2 separate regions of the Homo sapiens genome follow, and region 2 is linked to region 1. The links come from fine-mapping of genetic effects on gene expression. Tissue or cell type: hippocampus. Region 1 holds a variant in brackets; the other region holds the start of a gene. All regions are shown on one strand. Distances are from middle to middle.

The links. PIP is the estimated chance that this variant, and not a neighbour inherited with it, causes the effect.
Region 2: ANKRD30BL starts here. The variant in region 1 is fine-mapped to the expression of ANKRD30BL in hippocampus (GTEx, PIP 0.99). The same link has a PIP of 0.9 or more in cerebral cortex, nucleus accumbens and prefrontal cortex.

The regions. Positions count from the first base shown.
Region 1 is chr2:132,253,077-132,261,340 of GRCh38, reverse strand. It overlaps MIR663B (microRNA 663b), which reads left to right and starts at 4,261; the gene lies at 4,261-4,375. It also overlaps a transcript of ANKRD30BL not described here, the pseudogene LOC107985804, the pseudogene RNA5-8SP5, the pseudogene LOC110467533 and the pseudogene CDC27P1. RefSeq lists a silencer at 5,951-6,245. The variant A/G (reference allele first, on the strand shown) is at 3,811.
Region 2 is chr2:132,157,106-132,165,105 of GRCh38, reverse strand. It overlaps ANKRD30BL (ankyrin repeat domain 30B like), which reads left to right and starts at 3,154. Exons shown (of 6, transcript NM_001358416.1): 1 at 3,154-3,618; 2 at 7,683-7,797; 3 at 7,960-8,000. The coding sequence starts at 3,401. RefSeq lists an enhancer at 2,361-2,861.

The DNA.
Region 1 (8,264 bases):
TGGGCGGTAAGAACAGGTCGCCTGTAAAAACAAGGCTTCTTCTGAGTGTACTTCTGCATAAAGGCGTTCTGCGAGGAAAACCCCATCTCAGTAAGCATAGTGGTTTAGTGCTTGCCATATAGCAGCCTAGACGGGTTCCTGCAACACCGTCATCCTCGAGGCTCAGACCCACTTTCTGCAGTGCCTCAGGCACCCCCCACCACCCCGCCCACCCCCCTCCCCGCCAATAGCGGCTCCGGCCTTGCCAGCCTCAGCTCATTTAAACTCACGAGTTTTGTAGGTTGCCTGTTCACTCTGATGGTAGTTTCTTTTGTTGTGCAGAAGCTCTTTAATTAGATCCCATTTGTCAATTTTGGCTTTTGTTGCCATTGCTTTTGGTGTTTTAGACATGAAGTCCTTGCCCATGCCTATGTCCTGAATGGTAATGCCTAGGTTTTCTTCTAGGGTTTTTATGGTTTTAGGTCTAACGTGTAAGTCTTTAATCCATCTTGAATTGATTTTTGTATAAGGTGTAAGGAAGGGATCCAGTTTCAGCTTTCTACATATGGCTAGCAAGTTTTCCCAGCACCATGTATTAAATAGGGAATCCTTTCCCTATTGCTTGTTTTTCTCAGGTTTGTCAAAGATCAGATAGCTGTAGATATGTGGCATTATTTCTGAGGGCTCTGTTCTGTTCCATTGATCTATATCTCTGTTTTGGTACCAGTACCATGCTGTTTTGGTTACTGTAGCCTTGTAGTATAGTTTGAAGTCAGGTAGTGTGATGCCTCCAGCTTTGTTCTTTTGGCTTAGGATTGACTTGGCAATGCAGGCTCTTTTTTGGTTCCATATGAACTTTAAAGTAGTTTTTTCCAATTCTGTGAAGAAAGTCATTGGTAGCTTGATGGGGATGGCAAAGGAATCTAGAACTAGAAATACGATTTGACCCAGCCATCCCATTACTGGGTATATACCCAAAGGACTATAAATCGTGCTGCTATAAAGACTTATGCACACGTATGTTTATTGCAGCACTATTCACAATCGCAAAGACTTGGAACCAACCCAAATGTCCAACAATGATAGACTGGATTAAGAAACTGTGGCACATATACACTATGGAATACTATGCAGCCATAAAAAATGATGAGTTCATGTACTTTGTAGGGACATGGATGAAATTGGAAATCATCATTCTCAGTAAACTATCGCAAGAATAAAAAACCAAACATCGCATATTCTCACTCATAGGTGGGAATTGAACAATGAGAACACACGGACACAGGAAGGGGAACATCACACTCTGGGGACTGTTGTGGGGTGGGGGAAGGTGGGAGGGATAGCATTAGGAGATATACCTAATGCTAGATGAGGAGTTAGTGGGTGCAGCACACCAGCATGGCACATGTATACATATGTAACTAACCTGCACATTGTGCACATGTACCCTAAAATTTAAAGTATAATAATAATAAAAATAAAAATAAAAAAAAAACTCACCAGTTACCAGGGGATGGGGGAGGCTGAGCCAGAATGACTTCTTTAGCCTGCCGACTCTGGAAAGCCCAGCCCCTTGTGATCCATTGCAAAGCGAGAGTCACCTCATGTTTGGAAAACAGATCCGCTCCCAAGTTCAGTGGAGGGATGTGGCATATAGGACGAAGGACTCTCTTCATTCTGATTCGGTCTGCACAGTGGGTCCTAAGGCTGGAGCTCTCTCTGTGTGGACCGCTGACTCCCTCTACCTTGGGTTCCATCGGCCCCACCCTGGGACACGGGCCTTGGCAGATTCTGGCCCTTCCTGGCCCTTAAGTCACTGTCAGAAACCCCATCTCACACTCGGATGCCCCGAAAGACTGTGGCTCGCGCATCTCTGGAAACATTGGAAATCTCTCCTCTATGCGTGGCCACCTAAAACCACAGGAGCTCGGGACACACAGCCGCCATCCACCTCACTGCTTTCGGGAGAGAATGCTGAGAGCCTCTCTCAGACTCTCTCTTGACTTGAGTTCTTCATGGGTGTGTGGTTAAGACGTAGTGAGACCAGATGTATTAACTCAGGTCGGGTGCTGGTGTCTCACACCTGTAACCCCAACACTTTGGGAGGCTGAGGCCATAGGATCCCTTGAGGAATCGCCTAACCCTGGGGAGGTTGAGGCTACAGTGAGTGAGCCATAATGGTGTCACTGCACTCCAGTCTGGGAGAAAGACAGAGTGAGGCCCTGTCACAGGCAGGCAGGCAGGCAGGCAGGCAGACAACAGTTGTATTATATTCTTCTCTGGGTAGGAAGTAAAAATAACAGAATACAGTGCTTAATTTTTTTTTTTTTTTTTTTTGAGACGGAGTTTCACTGTTGTTGCCCATGCTGGAGTGCAATGGCACCATCTCGGCTCACCGCAACCTCCACCTCCCGTGTTCAAGCGATTCTCCTGCCTCAGACTCCTGAGTAGCTGGGATTACAGGCATGTGTCACCACACCCGGCTGATTTTGTATTGTTAGTAGAGACGGCATTTCTCCATGTGGGTCAGGCGGGTCTCGAACTGGCCACCTCAGGTGATCTGCCCACCTCGGCCTCCCAAAGTGCTGGGATGACAGGCATGAGCATTTGAGACCCGCCAGCTATGTTTTTTATAAATTTTCAATTTTAATCTATTTATTATTATTTTTTTTTTGAGATGGAGTCTCACTGTGTTGCCCAGACTGGAGTGCAGTGGCATGATGTCGGCTCACTGCAAGCTCTGCCTCCCGGGTTCACGCCATCCTCCTGTCTCAGCCTCCCAAGTAGCGGGGACTACTGGCACCCGCCACGGCGCCTGGCTAATTTTTGGTATTTTGAGTAGAGACGGGGTTTCACTGTGGTAGCCAGGATGGTCTCGATCTCCTGACCGTCGTGATCCGCCCGCCTCGGCCTCCCAAAGTGCTGGGATTACAGGAGTAAGCCACCGCTCCCGGCCTACTTATCTATTTATTAACTTTGAGTCCAGTTTATGAAAACAGTTAGTTTTTGTATTTTTTTAGAGACGAGGTTTCACCATGTTGCCAAGGCCTGGATCGAGGGATCCACCTTCCCTCGCCTCCCAAAGTGCGGGGATGACAGGCGTGAGCCTACCACGCCCGGCTCCTCCCCTTCACCCCCCAGCTTATCCCTCAGGTGCCCGAGGTCGAGTGGTGGTGTGTGGTTCCCACCCCCAGCGCCCCCTCCTCCGGTCACCGCCGCGATGTCCACCAGTGGGTCCTGAGGGAGCTCGTTGGTGTGGGGGTCGAGGCGGTTGAGTGAGACGCGCCCCTCCCACGCGGGGAAGGGTGCCGCCTGATCTGGCGAGCGCAGGTCCCGTGCTCCCCTCTGGCGGCTGCGCACGGGCCGTGTGAGCTATTGCGGTGGGCTGGGGCAGATGACGCGTGCGCCGGCCGGCCGCCGAGGGGCTACCGTTCTGCCTCCGACAGGTTGTGTGTGGGTTTACTTGGAGGTGCTTTGCCTGGGAGAAAGGAGGCTGGTGGACTAGGGGGCCCTTCGGGGATTGCGCGCACGCGCAGCGGCCAGGCCCCCTGCCCAGACCGCGAAGGCTCAAGGTTGCCGCACGCAGATTTTTCCTGGTACCGCAGGCCCCCTCCCTTCCCCAGGCGTCCCTGAGCGCCTCTGCGGGCCCGACGAGGGGCGACTGGCGTGTGGGGAGTGTGACCCACCCTCGGTGAGAAAGCCTTCTCTAGCGATCTGAGAGGTGTGCCTTTGGGGTACCGGATCCCCCGGCCTGCCGCCTCTCTTTGCGTTATGGTAGCGCTGCCGTGGCGACTGGCTTGCAGAGGACCCTCCTCCACTTCCCCCTTGATG[A/G]GGTGAGTGGGGGAAAGCAAGGGTTCCGCCAGCCTCCGCGGTGGGGACCCAGGGAAGCTCGTCGCCTACTGTGTGGCCCGCGCCTTCCCCTTCCGAGTCAGGGGAGAATCCCGCCGGGCCGGGCCGGCGTCCTAGCGGTTGGGAGGCTGCGTGAGCGGTGGCTGTGCCTGGCGTTCAGTCCGGCTTGTGACCCGTTCCGCTGTGAGCCGGCTCTCTGCCCGCTCCCCTGCAGAGCAGCGACCGGTGCCGACGACCGTGTTTGCGTGGCACGGGGTTGGGCCGCCTGGCCCTGGGAAGCGTCCCAAGTGGGGGGCATGCCGGTCTCCTGGAGCTTGACCGGGTTGGAGGATGGATGAGAAACGAGCAACGTGGCCCTGGCGTTAGGTTTGTGGCTGAGGTCACCTCGGGGTCCTGATGGCGGGACCTGGGGCTCATGAGGCGGGTCTCGGTGGTGCCGAGGGCCGTCCGGCATCCTAGGCGGGTCGCTGCGGTACCTCCCTCCTGTCTGTGGCGGTGGGATCCCGTGGCCGTGTTTTCCTGGTGGCCCGGCCGTGCCTGAGGTTTCTCCCCGAGCCGCCCCTCTGCGGGCTCCCAGGTGCCCTTGCCCTCGCGGTCCCTGGCCTTGCCTGTCTGTGCCCCCCACCCTGCCCGCGGATCCTCTCTCCCCGAGCGGCTCACCGCCTTAGGCTGTGGTGGCCCCGTCTGGGACCAAACCCGGCTCTGCCTGGTGGGGCGCCGCCGCTAGCCACTGGTTGGCCCGTTGTCCGTGTCCCCGGGCGTGCGCCTTCGGGACCAGGTCGGCGGCACCCCGAGTGGGCCTGGTGGACACCCGGAGGGTTTGGGGTCGGCCAGCAGTGTGTGCAGGGAAGAGGGTTCAGGGGGCTGGCCGCGACAGTGGCGGCGGTGGGGAAGCCGCAGGCCCGCCGAAGGCCAGTCGGCCGCTCCAGGTGCCGCGAGGGGCCGCCTTCATGCCCCGAGGCCACTGGCGGTGAGACCCCAGGCACCGCGGTCCGCCTCTCCTTCGCTGCCCAAACGTCGGGGCCGCCCCGCGCCCTCCGCGCATGAGTGGCCGCCGGTCCCTCGCGGCTGCCGCACACGGGTCGGGCGGTCGGCCTCCTCGCACATGGGCACGAAGGGTCGGGAGTGGTGAGCCCGTCGGGGGGTTTTGTGTCCTGTGGGTGGATGGGATGTCCGGTTCGCCGCCCCACCACCCCCCTCCCACCACCCCAAGCTGCTCCCTCCCTCCCCCACGCCCCATCGCCCGCCCTGCCGCGCCCAATCTCGCAACTGGGACGCCGGGCTCATCCTCGCGAGTCCCAGAGGCCGCTTTCTACCTACCTGGTTGATCCTATCAGAACCATATGCTTGTCTCAAAGATTAAGCCATACATGTCTAAGTACGCAGGGCTGGTACAGTAAAACTGCGAATGGCTCATTAAATCAGTTATGGTTCTTTTGGTCGCTGGCTCCTCTCCTACTTGGAAAACTGTGGTAATTCTAGAGCTATTACATGCTGAAGGGCACTGACCCCCTTCACAGGGAAGATGCGTGCATTTATCAGATCAAAACCAACCCAGTCAGCCCCTCTCCGTCCCCGGCCGGGGGGTCGGGTGCCGCCAGCTTTGGTGCTTCTGGATAACCTCGGGCCAATCGCACGCCCCCCGTGGCAGCGATGACCCATTCGAATGTCTGCCCTATCAACTTTCTATGGTAGTCGCTGTGCCTATCATGGTGACCACGGGTGACAGGGAATCAGGGTTCAATTCTGGAGAAGGAGCCTGAGAAATGGCTACCACATTCAAGGAAGGCAGCAGACACTCAAATTACCCACTCCTGACACGGGGAGGTAGTGACGAAAAATAACAATACAGGACTCTTTCTAGGCCCTGTAATTGGAATGAGTGCACTTTAAATCTTTTAATGAGGATCAATTGGAGGGCAAGTCTGGTGCCAGCAGCCGTGGTAATTCCAGCTCCAATAGCGTATATTAAAGTTGTTGCAGTTAAAAAGCTCGTAGTTGAATCTTGGGAGCGGGTGGGCTAGCGAGCCACAGCCCGTCCCTGCTTCTTGCCTCTCGGTGCCCCCTGGATGCTCTTAGCTGAGTGTCCTGTGGCCCGAAGCACTTACTTTGAAAAAATTAGAGTGTTCAAAGCAGGCCCAAGCCGCCTGGATACTGCAGCTTGGAATAATGGAATAGGACCACAGTTCTATTTTGTTGGTTTTCGGAACTGAGGCCATGATTAAGAGGGACGGCCGGGGGCATTCATATTGCACCGCTAGAGGTGAAATTCTTGGACTGGCAGTTTAGACCAGAGCGAAAGCATTTGCCAAGAATGTTTTCATTAATCAAGAACGAAAGTCGGAGGTTCGAAGACGATCAGATACCGTTGTAATTCCGACCATAAACGATGCCAACTGGCGATGTGGCGGTGTTATTCCCATGACCCGCTGGGCAGCTTCCAAGAAACCAGTCTTTGGGTTTTTGGGTTCCGAGGGGAGTATGGTTGCAAAGCTGAAACTTAAAGGAATTGACAGAAGGGCACCACCAGGAGTGGAGCCTGCAGCTTAATTTGACTCAACATGGGAAAACTCACCCAGCCTGGACACGGACAGGATTGACAGATTGATAGCTCTTTCTCGATTCCACGGGTGGTGGTGCATGGCCTTAGTTGCTGGAGTGATTTGTCTGGCTAATTCCAATAACGAACGAGACTCTGGCATGCCAACTAGTTATGTGACCCTGGAGCGGTCGGCATCCCCCAACTTCTTAGAGGGACAAGTGGCGTTCAGCCACCTGAGATTGAGCAATAACAGGTCTGTGATGCCCTTAAATGTCCAGGGCTGCACGCGCGCTACACTGACTGGCTCAGCGTGTGCCTACCCTATGTGGCAGATGTGGGTAACCTGTTGAACCTCATTGGCGATGGTGATCAGGGATTGCAATTTTTCCCCATGAATGAGGAATTCCCAGTAAGTGCTGGTCATAAGCTTGCATGAAGTCCCTGCCCTTTGTACACACTGCAGTCGCTACTCCTGATTGGATGGTTTAGTGAGGCCCTCGGATCAGCCCGCTGGGTCAGCCCACTGCCCTGGCGGAACGCTGAGAAGACAGTCGAACTTGACTATCTAGAGGAAGTAAAAGTCGTAACAAAGTTTCGGTAGGTGAACCTGCGGAGGGATCATTAACAGAGAAGAGCGAAGCCACGGAGACGCCGCCATGTCCTTCCTCCTTGGCTGACCGTGTTCCCCTGTGGCGCATGCATGGGCGGAGTCGTGCCCTTTGTTCGTTGCATGGCCCCACCTGCCCCGAGAGCCAGAGAACTCGGGAGGGAGAGAGGGGGTAGAAAGAGACATGCGTGTGGGGATGAAACCGTGTGTGCGTGTCGTGGGGCGGGCTGGATGGCTCGCAGCCTGGTGAGCAGTGGGGAGCAGTCCCCTGCTGTGGCCCCCATGTGTGTGTCGGTGGGCGCGGGGGTGGTTCTCGGCGTCACGGTGGGGTGGGGGTCTCAGTGCCCTCCCCACTGGGGCTGTCATCGTGCCCTGTCCCACTGTCCCAGCCCCATCCTGCCCACTCCCTTTGGGGCTGGCCAGGTTCCCATCGCTGCCGCTGCCACCATCGTCACCTCTGCCAAACCATGCCACTGGCCCGGCCCGGCCCGCTTGCTCTCCCCAGCCTTCCCGCTAGGGGGTCTCGAGGGTAGGGGGCCGGATGCCGGTCCCACCCCCCTCATCCGCCCCCGCCATCCAGGTACCTAGCGCATTCTGGTGCAGAGGTTTAAGGACCCCTTGAGGGGTCGCCGGTCTGCCTGTGGGTCAGGTGCAGTGGGCCCACAGTGGAGTCCGTTCAGGAGGGGCCCGCCCCTCCCTCGCCTCCCCTGCCGACTCCGTCCCCCCGGCCAGCTGGGGCCACGCCACACTTGCGTGTCGCCACTGATGTCGGTGGGGGCTTTACCCAGTGGCCATCGTGCTGTCGTGCATGCTGCACGTGTGGCCTGTACCCCGCTCTGTGGGGGCGGGAACCCCTGGGCTCCCATGGGGTGGTGTCAGCGTTTGCCCCCCACTGTGGTCGGCACCACCTCTCTGTGTTGTGAAACCTTCCAACCCCTCTCTGGAGTCTGGTCCAGTTGCTGTCTGACTGGCCAGCCTGAGGTAACCCCTCTGGGTGACGTGCTGTGCCAGGAGGGCCTCCCGTTGTTGGGAGTGCCCTCGCCAAATCAACCTTGTATGACTTTTAGTGGTGGATCACTCAGCTCCTGTGTCAATGAACAACACAGCTAGCTGGGAGAATTAATGTGAACTGCAAGACACGTTGATCATCGACTCTTCGAATGCACTTGCGGCCCGGGTTCCTCCCAGGGCTATGCCTGTCTGAGCGTCACTTGCCAATCAAAATCCCCCAGGGTTGCCTCTGGGCTCCTCGGGGTGCATGACTGTTCCCTGGCAGGGCCCACGGGG
Region 2 (8,000 bases), 96 kb after region 1:
CATTTGCGTTTTTTTTTGTTTGTTTTTTGTTTTGAGACGGAGTCTGCTCTGTCGCCCAGGCTGGAGTGCAGTGGCACGATCTCGGCTCACTGCAAGCTCCGCAACCCGGATTCACGCCATTCTCACGCCTCAGCCTCCCAAGTAGCTGGGACTACAGGTGCCTGCCACCACGCCTGGCTAATTTTGTTTTTGTATTTGTAGTAGAGACGGGGTTTCACCGTGTAGCCAGGATGGTCCCCATCTTCTGACCTCGTGATCTGCCCGCCTTGGCCTCCCAAAGTGCTGGGATTACAGGCGTGAGCCACTGCACCTGGCCTGCATTTGTTAAAAAACAAAGAATGTCACTTAATATATGCAAATTTTAAAACAACAACAACAACAAAGTAGGTGTTCTGGGGATCCTGAGATGGAATGCAGAATGTGATAGAAAATCTAAAGTACTACAAATGTATAAAGCCACTTCACTCTAGGGAGTGGGAAAAACGTGCTGACATAAGCATCTTAGAAAATGGATGGGCCTTCTGTGGTGGCTCACATCTGTAATCCCAGCACTTTGGGAGGCCAAGGTGGGCGGATCACCTGAGGCTGGGAGTTTGAGACCAGCCTGGCCAAAATGGTGAAACCCTATCTCTACTAAAAAGACAAAAATTAGCTGGGCATGATGGCGGGTGCCTGTAATCCCAGCTACTCAGGAGGCTGAGGCAGGAGAATCGCTTGAACCTGGGAAGTAGAGGTTGCAGTGAGCCGAGATCACGCCACTGCACTCCAGCCTCAGCCTGGGCAAGAAGGCAAGAAGAGCAGAACTCCATCTTAAAAAAAAAAAAAAAAAAAAAAAAGAAAAAGAAAAAGAAACAAAGAAAATGCATGAAGACTGAAAGGAAGAGAAACTGCAAACAACTCATGTGATCTGGTTGGTATAGCTGTCTCCTACAGGAAATGGGATAGCGATTCTGATATTGATAGAGAATGAATGTATATTGGAACTAGACAGTTAAGCAAACGGATGACAAATGACAGGAGCCTGGTTTCTCATTATTAAAGTGGGAGGTTACATGTAAGCAAGGGGAGAAGGCCGGAATGATCATGTGATAAAAGAATTGAGTCGTAGACATCAGTATGAACTAACACTTACACACATTACATTTAGAAATATTTATAGTTATGTGTATACACAGCTTTGTATACACACATTTATTTCTTTGCTCTGTAAACTAAGACGGTCTAGAAGCAATGATATCCCAGCAGAAATGAGCATATCTAACACTCAAGTCTTCAATTCTTGGGTTTTTGTTCATGATCCAGGATCCAGGAGTTGGGCCCTGGGGCTGGGCATTGTGTAGCCTCCGGGGTGGTGCTGAGCATCCATTCCCACCCTCCTGCAGCTGGGGACCCATCCCTTGACTTGGGCCCCCTGGAGGCAAGAACATGGTCACCCACTTTAATCACATGGTCCCTATCACATAATCAGAGGGCTCTGTGGGTTTTAATTCTTCAAGCTAGATGTGTAAACAATTCGACATAGATAAGATATAGTGACTAGAAGTCTTTCATTTATTTATTTTGAGAGAGAGTCTCTGTTGCCCAGGCTTGGAGTGCAGCGGCACAAACAATCAAACAATAACCAAAATCCAGAAGACTGAAAAGGTCAAATGCTGTCAAGGATGGGGAGCAACAGGACCTCTCATTCCTTGTTTGTGGCACAATCAGTTTACTGTACCCACGAACTCCCAGGCCCAAGTGATCCTGCCACAATCAATCTCCCAAGTAGCTGGGGCCACAGGCATGCACCACCATGCCTGGCTGATTGGTTTTATTTTTATAGAGATAAAGTTTCCCTGTGTTGTCTAAGCTGGTCTCAAACTCCTGGGATCAAGTGATCCTCCTATCTCGGTCTCCCAAAGTGCTGTAAGTACAGGCATGAGGTCCTGCACCCAGCCTGGAAGTCTTTATAGATAAGTTCAATTTAACTGTTTCTCCATCTGCTCCACTCAGCCGAGTTTCCCTCTCAGTCCAAGGGTGAGAACTGCAGCTCAGCCCCATCCAGGAGGGCTGCAGATGACCCAGCGCCACTGCCATACTCCAGATGCTGGTCAACGAGGAAGGGATCCTGAGGCCTGGCAGCGGGCGCTCTCAGGAACCTTGAAGCCCTCTAAACGGGACCCGCCATCCGTGCCTGTCAGAACTGTAGCCGCTACCTGCACTTGGCGCACAGGCAAATACGGCCAAGCAACCCCAAACTCCCCTCTTCCCCTCTGGGCCCAGGCGGCGCTGAACCTGCTGCTCAGCCGCATCCTGGCGACTGCACAGTGCCCAGAGCCTGCAAACCAGCGCTCAGGGCGCGAGCCAAGGAAGAGCAGGGCCTAGAGTGGGAGGGCGTGTGCCACACGGCTACCCTCAGGCCGTCGGGCCCAGCCCTGCAGCCTCTACCGTGGGCTCAGCTGCAGCTGGCATTTGAAGGTGGCAGCAGCGGTGGCAACCCCCGAACCTGTCCGCGCCACCAGCAGGCGAACCCCAGGGTCGGACACCGCCACTGCGCCTAAGTCAGGCAGTGGGACCTCAGTTGCAGGATCGTGGGAACCTGCCGCAAAGCCTCATCGCCGCAGCTGTACAGGGCCCAGTGGTGGCAAGCCTGCGCTGCCAGCGCGAGCCGAGGAAGAGCAGAGCCCCGGGTGGAAGGGCGATGTACTCGGCGATGCTCAGCGGTCTGGGCCCAACCCTGTAGCCTCTACCATGGGCTCAGCTGCAGCTGCCACCTGAACATGGCACGTGGCAGGAGAGGCTGCAACCCTGACCCTGCCAGCGCCACCAGCCGCGCGGATACTTGGGCCAGAAGCCTCCAGGCGCCTAAGTCAGGGATGGGTCCCTGGCTGCAAGAGGCCGGGAACCGACGCTCAGCGCCACCCTGGAGGCTGCACGATGCCCAGCGCCAGGGCCCAGCTCCTGGATCTCAGGTTGAGGAGGGGACAGGGGCAGCTCTGTCAAGCAGGCCATGTGGCAGGGAGCCCCCCACGTTCCGCTCCAGGGAGCCCCGCCAGCCCGATAGCGCCTCAGTAGCAGGTGCCACCTGCACGCCGTGCTGGGCGAAGCGCAGCCAGGGCGGTTTCCTGCCTCGCGTGTCTCCCAGGTCTGCTGAGTTGCGCATGCGCTGTTGCCTAACGGTTCTGCTCAGCTGCCTAAAGGTTCTGCTCAGGTGCCTAACGGTTCTGCTCAGCTGCCTAACGGTTTTGCGCAGCCATTTTCTCCCGGGAGAGGTTGGAGTGTCCAAAAGCTTGGCCCGACTGAGATTTCTAGTCTTGTCAGGGCGGATGCAGGGACTGAAGAAGGGCGAGGGCGAGCGGCGGGGACTGGGGAAGGGCGAGCAGCGGGAGGCACGGGCTCTCTCTAGCAGGTGGCTGCAGCCATGGAGAGGCTCTCTGCCGCCCCTGTCAAGGGCCAGACGGGCCCAGAGCGCCCGAGCCCCTTCAGTCAGCTGGTCTACACCAACAACGACTCTTACGTGATTCACCATGGGGATCTCAGGAAGATCCACAAAGCTGCCTCCCGGGGCCAAGCCTGGAAGCTGGAGAGGATGATGAAGAAGACGACAATGGACCTGAACATAAGAGATGCGAAGAAGAGGTACCAGGCCCTGCCTGAGCCGGGGCTGCAGGAGGAGGAGGAGGCTGTGGGAGGATCGCCCCTTCAGAGTGGGGCCTGGGGGTCCTGGGGACGAGGGGAGCAGGTGGAGGAGTGGCGGGCAGCGGGGCGGCCGTCCTGGGCCCCGAGGTCTTGGCCTTCTTCCCGGGCAGGTCCCCCAGGCCTTGGATGAGGGCGCCCTGCAGGGCGGAGGGCACAGGCCACCTTAAAATCAACCCCAAACTTTAGCTGCTTTCTCCTTCACTCCCACTTCCTCTCACAGAGCACTGTGTAGAGAATTTTAAAGTGATTTAACTTATAAAATTAAGTACATACAGGGTTTTACTTTTAATGTACAGGTTTTAAAAGATGTTAGATACATTATGAAATGGTGCATAATGAAATAATTCCCATAATATATTAACTTCTTGGCTAAAAATTTTTTGGATAAAGTCCAGTATCCATTTCAATATCAATGAATGTCTATGTAAATATATTCTTTGCTGAGGGACCTTAGAAGGTAACTTTGAGGTGGGAAGATGGTTTATGTTTTCGAATTTAAGAAGACTCATTTTTCTGAAGATGCAAGTTCTTTATCAGTTTTACATAAACCAAATAAAGTTATCAACGTTTTAACATTTTTAAAATTACACACGCTGTCTTTTACTATTGTGGTGACATTTAAAACATTTTGTAACGGAGTAGAAAAGTCTTGCCCTTCTAGATTTCAAAATGTGCTATTAATTTGCACAAAATGGGCCATGGCCAGGCGCGGTGGATCATGCCTGTAATCCCAGCACTTTGGGAGGCCGAGGTGGGTGGATCATGAGGTCAGGAGATCGAGACCATCCTGGCTAACACGGTCTCTACTAAAAATACAAAAAATTAGCCGGGCGTGGTGGTGGGCGCCTGTAGTCCCAGATACTTGGGAGGCTGAGTCAGGAGAATGGTGTGAACCTGGAAGGCAGAGCTTGGAGTGAGCCGAGATCGCACCACTGCACTCCAGCCTGGGTGACAGAGCAAGACTCCGTCTCAAAATAATAATAATAAATAAATAAATAAATAAAATTTGAAAAAAAAAAAAAAAAAGGGCCAGGCGTCGTGGCTCATGCCTGTAGTCCCAGCACTTCGGGCGGCCAAGGCGGGTGGATCACCTGAGGTCAGGATTTCAAGACTAGCCTGGCCAATATAGTGAAACCTCAAATCTACAAAAATACAAAAATTAGCCAGGCAGGATGTCGGGAGCCTGTAAGCCCATCTACTCGGGAGGCTGAGGAGGGAGAATCGCTTGAAACTGGGAGGCGGAGGTTGCAGTGAGCTGAGATCCCATCACTGCACTCTAGCCTGGGAGACAGTGAGACTCTGTCTCAAAAATAAATAAATAAATCACAAATTATTTGATAACAGCTGAAAAGACAGGTAAATGAATACAACAGAGTAGAAAATCCAGAAACACCCAAATATCTAAGAATTTAGAACTTGATAATGCTCACAGGTTATACTAGTAGGGAAAGAATTAGTTTCATAAGTGAAATGCCTGCTTTTTGGAGAAAACTAGATTTTTATGCCACAAAGTAAATTTCTGATGGAATATAGATTAAATTTTTTTAATATACAAAATGATAAAAGCACCAGAAGAAAACATAAATACCTATTTACACAGGTACATTTTTATGTTGACAACACCTTTCTAAGAAGCTCAGAAGCAAGCAGTCTGAAGGATAATTAAGCAAAACAAAATTAAATTAAACTGTAATGAGAAAAAATAAAAGGCAGCATACTTGTAAAATATTTACTACACATGTATGTGAGTGTGTGTATACATATTAGATTTTTAAATCGTCATTTTATAGATAATTCACTTAAATCAACAAAAAACCCGCTAATTATAATTGAGCAATTTAAGTTAGAGATATAAATTGCAGATCTAAAAATAGTACTTTGCTTCTAATTTAAAATTGGGAAAGTATTTTCTTAAGATCTGTAAGTGACCTATGCACACAGAAAACAATATTTAGTGTTCCTGGTTACAGAAGGCATTTAAGTTAAAAAAGGAATCAAATACTGCTTTCTATCTACAAAGTTTGTGAGGATAAAGAGCAGTGATATTTATACTGCTGTTTAAAGTTTAAGTTGCAGATAACTTTTCAAATAGACAATTTGGTGGTAAGTACCATATTATTAAGAAGAATTCATATAATGACTTTTATAAATACATTTCAGTGAATTTACAGCATGGGATAATATGTGACCACTGAAGGTAGAAATATGTAGAGAAATAGGTGACATTTGAAAATGTATTCTGGTGTATCAAGTGAGGGTAAAGTTCAGTTTGATTATACATACACACAGACTACAGTCTTGTGTTATCTGAAGTTGTGTATGAAATATGATAAAATTTGTTATTTGAGGGTGTTTAATATAAAATGTTTTTCCTTTTTATTATCTTTGATTTCCACATTGAGCATGTACAATGCTATTAGAAAAAGTTTATTATTAATGAAAAATTTTTGGGAAGAGCAGAAATATAATTTTGCACCAATAAAAATAATTTCTCACTTTCCGTAATTTAATTATTACTTTTTGTGGATTAGTATATTCTGTGAACTTTTAGCATCTTCAAAAGACAATCTTTTTACCTGTGCTTGTTGATTTACATATACATCTTATTAGACACATATTTTTATTATATATAGATTTATTACATATATGTCAATAATTATAGATTAATTAGTGTAGTTTTATTATTAAGAAAATAAAATAGAAAATATAAGTGCTTTATTTATAGCAGTTTTTTTAAGGTATTGAACTTCTCAACTGTATTTATCCTTTTAATCAATTTATCACATGTAAGCTGAATGCCTATTATGTAGAAGATACATTAACTCTCAAGATCCTTTCATCCTTAAAAATTTCACATTTACCTGCTCAGCCTTAGCAAAGTGAGAGATTTAAAGTTGGAGTACTAGGAATGAATCTCAATTGAAGATTTTCCTCTCATCTTTAAAACAAAAACACTTCTGAAGTAAGAAACTAGTAAAAGATAACTACCAACCACGATTTTGGAAATTTATAACAGCTTTAAATAGTAATATTAATCATTGGAAATACCTAATTTACATGCATTCTATAAATTTAAATATGAATTTACATACATTCTGTAAATCTAAACATGGAATAAAATAAGCCATACCTTCTTGAATCCCAAGTTTTCTTTGGCTTGAAGTTTTAAAAATATTAAAGAAGTACTTTGTTTTAACAGTTTGTTTTTATTTCAACTCTCCTTTTGTATAGCACTCTTAAAAGCTAAAATTTCTTTAAGTGTTAATCCTATGACTAAGACTGCCATCATCCTGTTGTATATACCATATTCCACTTCATGGAAGGCACGGTGAATTGTGTGATGCCTCCTTATTTATGTACCAATACAAGATTGTTTAAATTTCTGCAAAATATACTTGTAACAAATAATGACTTATAAGCGGCATTTCAATGTCAGAGATGTTAAAATACGAGAAATAGAGTATTTCAGAATTATTAAAATAGCTTTATCTCTAACCTTTAAAACATACCACAAATTAGGCATAATTGTACCATTTTACTTAAAATGTTTTCTTTGTTAAGTAGTAGAAATAATTACATTATCTATCAATTACTGAGCTGTTACATGTGCTAGGAATTCTTCCAAATACATTGCACATATTCTCATGAGGCATCACAGTGATGTCCTGTGAGATAACTACTGTATTCATCTTCACTTTATTGATGAGAAAATTGAGGCAGAGAAAGGTTAAGTGATAGTAGAAGGTGAAAGACTTTAAAGTAATATTCAAGCCCAAGTTGAACTGAATCCAAAGGCCAAGCTCTTTCTGTTCAAACAGGCACTCTTTCATTAATGTAGTGAGTAATAACAGTGAAGGAATATTGTAGTTTCTTCAGGAGAATATTAAATATTTGTTTTGAAGGCAGAGAAAGAGCATGGTATTTAATGTTGACAATTACATAAATCATTCTATGTTTTGAGACAGTGGACTAAACTTTCCTTAAAAGGCCTCTCATTCTTGTAGGACTGCTCTATACTGGGCCTGTGCCAATGGCCATGCAGAAGTAGTAACACTTCTGGTAGATAGAAAGTGTCAGCTTGACGTCCTTGATGGTGAAAACAGGACCATTCTGATGAAGGTAAATGGTAGCCAGTTCTTTCAGCAGGAGATGGATTTGGTTTAAATACATAGAATAAAAATGAATCTATCTCATTGAAATATAACTGGTTTGTGAAACCTGTGGAATATTTATTTATATTTCCTATAATTTATAATTTACTTTTTGCTTTAATACTGACAGGCTCTGCAATGCCAGAGGGAGGCTTGTGCAAATATTCTCAT